Linked DNA regions of Homo sapiens. The protein of the gene in region 1 interacts with the protein of each later gene in a pairwise test. Each region holds a gene or a part of one and is shown on either strand. Other genes may lie near its edges.

Region 1 (3,500 bases):
TCAGATTAAGACAGGCAGTGCTGCAGAAGGAGGCTGAATTTAAAACTAAGGGTCTGAATACTGGCTCTCATAAGTATTTACTGCTACATGATCTTGAACAATTTCTTTAAAAATTTTTAAAATTATTAATTGAGATGAGGATCTCTCTGTTGCCCAGGCTGGCCTCAAACTCCTGGCCTCAAATGATCTTCCTGACTCAGTCTCCAAAAGTGTTGGGATTACAGGCTTGAGCCACTGTGCCCAGCTTTGAATGATATTTTAACTTCTCCAGGTCTCAGTTTCTTTATCTCTAAAAGGGGAATAAAAATAGCTGCCACAAATGGCTGTGTCTTTTTTTTTTTTTTTTTTTTGAGATGGAGTCTTGCTCTGTCGCCCAGGCTGGAGTGCAGTTTCATGATCTCGGCTCGCTGCAACCTCCACCTCCCAGGTTCTAGCGATTCTCCTGCCTCAGCTTCCCAAGTAGCTGGGATTACAGGGGCCCGCCACCATGCCCAGCTAATTTTTGTATTTTTAGTAGAGACAGGGTTTCACCATGTTGGCCAGGCTGGTCTCGAACTCCTGACTTCGTGATCCACCCATGTTGGCCTCCCAAGTTCTGTGATTATAGGCGTGAGCCACCGCGCTGGGCCTGGCTGTGTCTTTTTAAAAAGAATTAAATAAGACTGTATGAAAAGTACCTGGCACAAAGAAAAGGTATCTGTTTTCCCTTTACCTCTTCCTCTCTTTCCTTTTTTCACTTTCCTTCCCTCTTTATCTGCTATTAGCCTCTTGATTTTGTAAAATTTACTTAACTCCTCAAAGATTTATTTCCTCACCTATAAAAATGAGTAGGTTAGTTATTTGGTTTCTAAGACCCTTTCCACTCTATAATTCTAAGATTCAACAATTTAATAACTTAGTTTTTCTTCGTATCATAAAAATGCAACTTATTGAGGGGTGATTTTAAGTTAGTGTGGTTAAGTTGCTTTTCCCCCCAGAAGATTCCATCACATAGATCTTGGTTTAGATGCATCTGAGTTATATAGGAATGAAAACTTTATTCAATATGCAAATAGTTTTAATATGTAAATAGCAACAATATATATTGCCTGTATCTACTTGTAATCTCCTATTTCAAAAGATTTACTTCTCTTTCCCTTTTGCCTATTTAGGTACTACTCAGGAAGTCTGGAGGCTAAGTCAACACATCATGAAACTCTAGGACTAATTCACACTGCAACAAAGGGGCTGATTAGAGCTTTTGAAGATGGGGGGATAGATTCTGTGATGGAATGGGAAGTGGATGAAGTGCTGAACTGGACAAATACACTGAACTTTGATGAGTAAGTACATGTTGCTATTCTTGGGGAACAAGGGCAGTCATCATAGTTTTTTTCTAACATTTCCTATTTCCTTGTTGAATCTTGGGGCCACAAACAATCTTCAAAGAAAAAAAAAACCCGAGTATCTATTATTTGTCTAGAAAGAACAGAAGAAGACATGAGGGGTAAGAAAATGAATGATCCAAAAATAGTAAACAGAAAATTAGACTTAGGACTCTTTATTCTTAGACTTTATTCTTATGCTTTAGTCTGCTTTGCTTCTTACTTTGGGATTTAGAAAAAAGGCTAAGAGCATGAAATTAATAATACAAAGGTTTTCTTTCATCTATATTCCCTAACCTTTCTGTATGAGACACTAAAATGTTATAAGTTTTCAGTGATGTACTATGGCCCTTAGAAAACATTTTTAAGATTTCTTGTGTGGGGGAAATTTTAGAATATTTAATGTAGCCCCATTAAGGAAATGCAATCAAAACCATAATGAGATACCACTTCACACCTACTAGGATAGCTATAATTAAAAAGACAGATAATAACAAGTGTTTGCAAGAATGTGGAGAAATTGGAACTCATACACTGCTAGTGGGAATGTGCAATGGTGCAGCCACTTTGGAAAACAATCTGGCAGTTCCTCAAGTGGTTAAACATAGAGCTGACATGTGATCCAGCAGCTCCACTCCTAGATATATACCCAAGAGAAGGGGAAATACATGTCTACACAAAAACCTGTGCATAAATGTTCATAGCAGCATTATCATAATAGCAAAAAAGCAGAAGACACCCCAAATGTCCATGAGCTGACGAATGGCTAAATGAAATATGATAGATCTATCCAATAGAATATTATTCCACAATAAAAATTAGTGGGCTGGGCATGGTGGCTCATGCCTGTAATCCCAGCACTTTGGGAGACCAAGCAGATTACTTGAGCCCAGGATTTTGAGACTAGTCTGGGCAACATAGCGAGACCCCATCTCTACAAAAAATCAATAATTATCCCAGGCCTGCTGGTGCATAACTGTAGTCCCAGCTACTCAGGAGGCTGAGGTAAGAGGTTCTCTTGAGCCAGGACGTAGATGCTGTAGTGAGCCATGATCACACCACTGTACTCCAGTCTGGGTGACAGAGCGAGACACACACACACACACACAAAAAGCCAAGTGTAGTGGCTCACGCCTGTAATCCCAGCATTTTTGGAGGCAGAGATGGGAGGATTGCTTGAGCCTAGGAATTTGAGACCAGCCTGGGAAACATAGTGAGACAGCGCCTCTATTTAAAAAAAAAGAAAGAAATTAAGTTCTGATCTATGCCATAACATTGATGAATCTGCTAAGTGAAAGAAGCCAATCACAAAGGATCATGTGTTATTTTATTTATAGGAAATACCCAGAATAGGCAAACCTATAGAGACAGAAAATAGATTAGTGGTTTCCTGGGGGTGGAGAATTAACTGGGGGGAGGGGGTGGTGGTGGCTATGGGGTGCAGGGTCTCTTTCTGAGGCAATGAAAATAATTGAAAATTCATTGTGGGCCAGGCGTGGTGGCTCACGCCTGTAATCCCAGCTCTTTGGGAGGTCAAGGCGGGTGGACTGTTTGAGGTCCCGAGTTCAAGACCAGCCTGATCAACATGGTGAAACCCTGTCTCTACTAAAAATACAAAAATTAGTCAGGCCTGGTGGCGGGCACCTGTAATCCCAGCTATCAGGAGGCTGAGGCAGGAGAATCACTTGAATCTGGGAAGTGGAGGTTGCAGTGAGCTGAGATCGTGCCATTGCACTCCAGCCTGGGCAACGAGTGAAACTCCGTCTCAAAAAAAAGAAAAGAAAATTCATTATGGTGGTGGAGCCACAACTCTGCTAATATTATACTAAAAGCCACTGGATACTATACTTTAAATGGGGGAATTGTATGGCATATGAATTATATACCTCAATAAAGCTGCTTAAAATGTTCAATATTTACTCAACTACAATAAAGAATGTGGATACTGCATGAAGAGGCAGAAAAATTTAAATGAAGATAGTGTAAGTAAAGAAATGTAAGAAAACAGAAGAAATCAGTAAAAGTGAGATAAGAAAATGGGGTAGGAAAAATCAAGTTAATGGTCATTGAACAATAGAACATGAAAAAAAGAAGCCAGAGGAAGCAGGGGAGAGAATAATGATGCAAGGAAAGATA
Region 2 (3,500 bases), on another chromosome or scaffold:
GTATTTGGAAATCTGGGGTAGAGATTGGAAAAGTACTTTTGAGAACCACAGGTACAAGACTCTCCAAGCATGCTCCTGCTTCTTACCATAAAAGCCCCAACGCCTCCGCTGATGTGCCTGTGTACTTAACCTGTGGGGCTTAATGGGCTTAACATGTTCTTCTCTACCAGCCCAAGCCAGTTCACTTGTTTTAAAGTGGACAGCCTGTACTCAGTTGTGTGATGGAAATGGGGCATATTAAACAGGAGGGGTCTGGGACTGCTCTCTGTTCCATGCTGTTCATCTTGGACCTGCCTCAGGCTTACTTCTTCACAATTTGAGGAACTGCTCAGCAAGAGCACACCCTATTGTTGACATGTTTTTCTTTTCTCTCCGGAACCTGCGAGTGTACGATGGCATTAGTGGAATCCCTCTGAGCCTGTGTGCCAAGGAAAATGCTAATGTGCTGATCCACAATGATGTGTGGCTCAGTGTGAACTACGTAGTAAATTTGTGAGTGACAGAGTAAAGGGGCAAGAGGCTGGAGGAGATGAGTATAACCATCTTTCATTCACTTAGACTTCCTGAATGAAGCCGTTCATACTGAGTTTTGAGCAATGAGAGGATTTTGGAAGTTCTGTTTTTAATAAATGGCTCCAACTCTTCTAGTACTTACTAATTGTATTAAGGTGAACCTTTGGGACATAGGTTTCCATATGCTTAATGGGAAATACTTTGTCCCTTTTCCCCCAAGACTGGCTTGACCTCACGTCAAGACCTCACGTCAAAGCTTTTGGGCCATGACCTGTTTCCTTTGTGGTTCCAGAAATCTGGGGGCGGGGGGAAGAAAAGAGAGAGACCTACCATAAAAGTTAATAGGACAGGCTGGGCCCAGTGGCTCACGCCTGTAATCCCAGCACTTTGGGAGGCCGAGGCAGGAGGATCACAAGGTCAGGAGATCGAGACCATCATGGCCAACATGGTGAAACCCCATCTCTACTAAAAACACAAAAAAAATTAGCTGGGTGTGGCAGCACACACCTGTAGTCCCAGCTACCCGGGAGGCTGAGGCAGGAGAATCGCTTGAACCCAGGAGGTGGAGGTTGCAGTGAGCCAAGATCGCACCACTGTACTCCAGCCTGGCAACAGAGCAAGACTCCGTCTCAAAAAAAAAAAAAAAAAAAAAAGTTAAAGGACAGAGATTCTGATCTGCCCTCTTTGACCAGACCCACCCCTTCTCCTTTCTCAAAGACTTTAAGGAGAAGACTTCAGGTTCTCATGACTGTTAGCTTTATTTTGGGGATGTAGAAAATAGAGATTCACTTTGAATTTTCAAAATGCACATCCCCATCTTTGTTTCTAATTTTAGAAGAGAGGTCAGTAAGTAGACAGATTTGTGTAGAAGATAGAGAATTGGAATATGCTTCTCTTTTGCCTATTTGAGGGAATGCTCTTGAGAATCACTGGATTAGAGACTGTAGAACAATGGTTCTTACTCTTTGAGTCAGAGGTCCTTTTAAGAGTTTAATGAAAATCCTGGTTCTTTCCTCAGGAAAATTCAGGAGCACAAAAATATGCGTATTCTGTTAGAGGATTTATGGGACTTCTGAAACTCATGGATCCTGGGTTTTAAAGTCCTGATGTGGAAGGCCAGGCCTCCAAGCCACAGCATCTCTTTTCATTACAAGTCCACAAACTGCTAAGAGATTTAAGTTTCCAGCCTGCAGTTTGTCCTTATGGCTTGGAACAAAGCTGAGGTTGTTGGCATTGTCAGCTCCCTCTTTGGGATGCTCCTCAGCTTCCCAAAAGACTCATTATAAGTGCCTTGAGAGTTCAGCTCAGGAACTTAACACACATTCGAACCGGCATTTCGGCCACTTTGGGGGAATTTTTGGTATTATCTCAACTCTACTGCTCTTCATATGAAATGCAGATGCCCCTGAAGCTCCAGAGCTGATTCCGTAGGAGTGTTTGAAATAGTAGCTCACATAGTAGATTATCAAAACTAAACAAAATAATTTGCTTCTGTATGTCTCTCAAAAATAGGTTGGATTTCAATGTAGTACTTCTCAAACTATTATATTTTAAGGACTGACCTGATATTTGAATTTTACTCATCATTTGACTTTTCTAGATGGAATATGTTGAGGGCAAAGACCGTATCTCACACATATTTATATAGTACCTGGCACATAATACTGTCAATAAATGCTTATTGAATAAAATAATGTGAGATAATCATTCCTTGGAGAAAGTAAGTTGGACTTATGTGGTGGCTTTGACTCACTTTCCCTTTCAGTTGGCTGGGGTGATTTTTCTAACTTAGAGCCCTCTCACATAGGTATAAGGAAGTACCAAGAACTGCAGGTGAGAAATTGATGAGAATTTCCAACTTAATAGATCCCTTTATAAAGCCAGAAATAGGAGGTCAGGGAGAAGACATCTGAATATATGCCTCCAGCTTCTTAGCCCAGTGGCAGTGGGCATAGGGATATCCTTAGACAATAATGGGGAAGGTAACTTGAATTTCTCACCATTGAAACAACTTTTAAACCCTTAGCATTAGGGAGACTCTGTCCAAAGTTGAAACTGGTATCCTGGTTTATACATGCTCTTGATTTAAAGAACAGGGAGGCTTTCACATAGGGTATTTGAGGTTTGGGGATTAGCGATGAGTTGAATAGTTTGATTTTGGAAAGTACATTGGAACTCTGAAAGTAATAAACAACAGCTCCGTCCGGCAGTGATGAGCAAACTTCTGGTTCTTACTCTGCAACCCTGGCTGCCCCTTCTGAGTCAAAGGCTGAGTTTGATGCTCAAAAGCTATACATGCCCTTCTCTCTTTGAAACACACCTTCTTTAGAATTACAGTCTTCTGGGAACTGGGCCAATGCTTATCCTAGCCAGAAGCTCAGGCTCTAGTTGGCACTACATTTTGTGTGTTCTGTTTCACTTCAAGTGTATAACTTAGGCAAGATTCAGGGGAAAAGGAGACCTTCAGAATTTTGCTATTTTGTGTTGTTTGTTTGTTTGTTTGAGATGGATTTTTGCTCTTGTCGCCCAGGCTGGAGTGTGATGGCACGATCTCGGCTCACTGCAATCTCCACCTCCCGGGTTCAAACAGTTCTCCTGCCTCAGCCTCCCAAGTAGCTGGGATTACAGGCATGTGCCACCACACCTGGCTAAATTTTTTTTGGTGTTTTTTTTGTTTTTGTTTTTGTTTTTAGTAGAGATGGGATTTCATCATGTTGGTTAGGGTGGTCTCGAACTCCTGACCTCAGGTGATCCACCCGCCATGGCCTCCCAAAGTGTTGGGATTACAGGCATGAGCCACTGCACCCGGCAAATTTTGCTATTTTGGAAGTTGAAATAGGTGCTTCCTAGAGATAGCAGATGTATCCAGTTGCTTTGGTAACTAATTCAGTTTCTTATGGGTGGCCAGGTGGTATCCCACTTATTATTCAATACTTGAGGGTTCAGTGCCCAGCTTCTGAGCACCAGCTTTCTTAGCAAGCAAGACA
Region 3 (3,477 bases), on another chromosome or scaffold:
ACAAAGAATCCTTTCGGCTCTCATTCACTCCATGACTTTGGTTCATTTCATCATTTCAAGGGAGAAGTCAAAGCCAGGGACCAAACAGAAATGTAGAATCATCTAAGGACAGCTGTCAGACCATTTTCCCCACTGTCTTCACTGGCTGGCCAGAAAAATAGCTTCACCTAGCACAGTGTTGATGTTCAATAACTGTTGAATGAAGGTTGGAAGGGCTTTGCCCTGAGCACTGAGGAGAGAGAGCTGGTTGCGTGGGACTTGAAGTCTGTCTCAGTTTCTTTAGGTGGGACTGATGCCCTTGGCCTTCCTCCAGGGAAGGCATCCAGCATCCAGAGGTAAGGATTCTCCTGTGGACCTTGTGACCTCTGACTCCTCCCCCTTCTTCCCCCAGAGTTCAAGGAGGCCTTCTCCCTCTTTGACAAGGATGGAGATGGCACTATCACCACCAAGGAGTTGGGGACAGTGATGAGATCCCTGGGACAGAACCCCACTGAAGCAGAGCTGCAGGATATGATCAATGAGGTGGATGCAGATGGTGAGCCCCACAGAGCGCGTGGGCAGCCCTGCTCCTGGTCACCCCGAGTGACTGCAGGGAGCCTCTCTCAGGGTGATGGATGAGCCCGTGTCTCTCAGGGCCCAGGCCAAGAGCATTCTCCATCCTTTCCCCACCTTCCAGGGAACGGGACCATTGACTTCCCGGAGTTCCTGACCATGATGGCCAGAAAGATGAAGGACACAGACAGTGAGGAGGAGATCCGAGAGGCGTTCCGTGTCTTTGACAAGGTAAGCAGCCCTCTCCAGGGGCGGCTCTGAGACTGACGCCAGCCTTCAGGCAGACAGGCGGAACTGGAGCCACGGAGCTACCACTTCCAGGAGGTCCGGGTCCCGGTGCCAGCCTCATTGCCAACCTGCTCTGCCACCTCAGGCAGCCTCCCTCACTGTGCTCACTGCTGAGGGATGGTGATGACAGCCACCCCTCTCACTGCCTCTCTCCCCACCGGGAGAAGTGCCCAGTGAAAGGCTTTATCCCCAACCCCCAGGATGGGAATGGCTACATCAGCGCCGCAGAGCTGCGTCACGTAATGACGAACCTGGGGGAGAAGCTGACCGATGAGGAGGTGGATGAGATGATCAGGGAGGCTGACATCGATGGAGATGGCCAGGTCAATTATGAAGGTGAGTCAAGGCCAGGCTTGATCTCTGGAACAAGAAGAGAATCGCAGCTTCAGGAACAAGCCCCCAGATCCCTCTTGTTGGGGAGGGCCGCTCGCCACTTAGCCTGCCCGCCTGACCTCCTCTCTCTCTGCTTCACTCCACAGAGTTTGTACAGATGATGACTGCAAAGTGAAGGCCCCCCGGGCAGCTGGCGATGCCCGTTCTCTTGATCTCTCTCTTCTCGCGCGCGCACTCTCTCTTCAACACTCCCCTGCGTACCCCGGTTCTAGCAAACACCAATTGATTGACTGAGAATCTGATAAAGCAACAAAAGATTTGTCCCAAGCTGCATGATTGCTCTTTCTCCTTCTTCCCTGAGTCTCTCTCCATGCCCCTCATCTCTTCCTTTTGCCCTCGCCTCTTCCATCCATGTCTTCCAAGGCCTGATGCATTCATAAGTTGAAGCCCTCCCCAGATCCCCTTGGGGAGCCTCTGCCCTCCTCCAGCCCGGATGGCTCTCCTCCATTTTGGTTTGTTTCCTCTTGTTTGTCATCTTATTTTGGGTGCTGGGGTGGCTGCCAGCCCTGTCCCGGGACCTGCTGGGAGGGACAAGAGGCCCTCCCCCAGGCAGAAGAGCATGCCCTTTGCCGTTGCATGCAACCAGCCCTGTGATTCCACGTGCAGATCCCAGCAGCCTGTTGGGGCAGGGGTGCCAAGAGAGGCATTCCAGAAGGACTGAGGGGGCGTTGAGGAATTGTGGCGTTGACTGGATGTGGCCCAGGAGGGGGTCGAGGGGGCCAACTCACAGAAGGGGACTGACAGTGGGCAACACTCACATCCCACTGGCTGCTGTTCTGAAACCATCTGATTGGCTTTCTGAGGTTTGGCTGGGTGGGGACTGCTCATTTGGCCACTCTGCAAATTGGACTTGCCCGCGTTCCTGAAGCGCTCTCGAGCTGTTCTGTAAATACCTGGTGCTAACATCCCATGCCGCTCCCTCCTCACGATGCACCCACCGCCCTGAGGGCCCGTCCTAGGAATGGATGTGGGGATGGTCGCTTTGTAATGTGCTGGTTCTCTTTTTTTTTCTTTCCCCTCTATGGCCCTTAAGACTTTCATTTTGTTCAGAACCATGCTGGGCTAGCTAAAGGGTGGGGAGAGGGAAGATGGGCCCCACCACGCTCTCAAGAGAACGCACCTGCAATAAAACAGTCTTGTCGGCCAGCTGCCCAGGGGACGGCAGCTACAGCAGCCTCTGCGTCCTGGTCCGCCAGCACCTCCCGCTTCTCCGTGGTGACTTGGCGCCGCTTCCTCACATCTGTGCTCCGTGCCCTCTTCCCTGCCTCTTCCCTCGCCCACCTGCCTGCCCCCATACTCCCCCAGCGGAGAGCATGATCCGTGCCCTTGCTTCTGACTTTCGCCTCTGGGACAAGTAAGTCAATGTGGGCAGTTCAGTCGTCTGGGTTTTTTCCCCTTTTCTGTTCATTTCATCTGGCTCCCCCCACCACCTCCCCACCCCACCCCCCACCCCCTGCTTCCCCTCACTGCCCAGGTCGATCAAGTGGCTTTTCCTGGGACCTGCCCAGCTTTGAGAATCTCTTCTCATCCACCCTCTGGCACCCAGCCTCTGAGGGAAGGAGGGATGGGGCATAGTGGGAGACCCAGCCAAGAGCTGAGGGTAAGGGCAGGTAGGCGTGAGGCTGTGGACATTTTCGGAATGTTTTGGTTTTGTTTTTTTTAAACCGGGCAATATTGTGTTCAGTTCAAGCTGTGAAGAAAAATATATATCAATGTTTTCCAATAAAATACAGTGACTACCTGATTTGGCTCCTCTCCTCCTGTCTCAGTTTCTGGCCTGCCCCCCTCCAACACACATACACACCAACCCCAGCACTGACTCCTTTGGCCCAGAGGTGGAAGAGCCTCTCCTCAAAGCTGGCTCTGAAGCTGTGTCCAGTCAGTGCAGCCCAGTGGACGCCTCTGAACCACAGTTCTGATCCCAGCTAGATCGCAGGGTCATCAACGGCAGGGTCCTGTCCTAGAGATAGTCGCACAAATGGACTGAAAGGCGGGGACTGAGAAGGCTCCTCTGAGGCAGGCCCATCATGCCATGGGAGCACACAGAGAAGGGGTCAGCCCAGTCAGGTGGCAGGACTGAGCTGAGACCTACCTGAAAGATGGGCAGTCCCCTAGCCGGGTAGGGGAAGGACGGAAGGGCATTCCAGTTCGGGGGGACGACATGTATGGAAGCCCTGAGGCAAGAGAAGCCCAGACATCAAGGAACTGAAGGAAATCCAGCGAGACTGGGTGAGAGCCCCGAGC

Evidence for each region. The genes of interacting proteins can lie anywhere in the genome.
Region 2: the proteins of C11orf65 (region 1) and AHCYL1 interact in binary tests that used the Homo sapiens proteins (3 or more experiments, as listed by UniProt).
Region 3: the proteins of C11orf65 (region 1) and CALM3 interact in binary tests that used the Homo sapiens proteins (3 or more experiments, as listed by UniProt).

What each region holds. Positions count from the first base shown.
Region 1 is NC_000011.10:108,391,030-108,394,529, reverse strand, and holds part of C11orf65 (protein MFI), read left to right. Parts: intron 1-1,151; coding exon 1,152-1,322; intron 1,323-3,500. UniProt on the Homo sapiens protein: Acts as an inhibitor of mitochondrial fission. Interacts with MFF and prevents DNM1L recruitment to mitochondria, promoting a more fused mitochondrial network.
Region 2 is NC_000001.11:109,991,265-109,994,764, forward strand, and holds part of AHCYL1 (S-adenosylhomocysteine hydrolase-like protein 1), read left to right. Parts: intron 1-3,500. UniProt on the Homo sapiens protein: Multifaceted cellular regulator which coordinates several essential cellular functions including regulation of epithelial HCO3(-) and fluid secretion, mRNA processing and DNA replication.
Region 3 is NC_000019.10:46,607,806-46,611,282, forward strand, and holds the end of CALM3 (calmodulin-3), read left to right. Parts: intron 1-18; exon of another isoform or gene 19-391; coding exon 392-535; exon of another isoform or gene 536-676; coding exon 677-783; exon of another isoform or gene 784-1,040; coding exon 1,041-1,176; exon of another isoform or gene 1,177-1,200; intron 1,201-1,292; exon of another isoform or gene 1,293-1,319; coding exon 1,320-1,348; 3' UTR 1,349-2,977; downstream 2,978-3,477. UniProt on the Homo sapiens protein: Calmodulin acts as part of a calcium signal transduction pathway by mediating the control of a large number of enzymes, ion channels, aquaporins and other proteins through calcium-binding. Calcium-binding is required for the activation of calmodulin.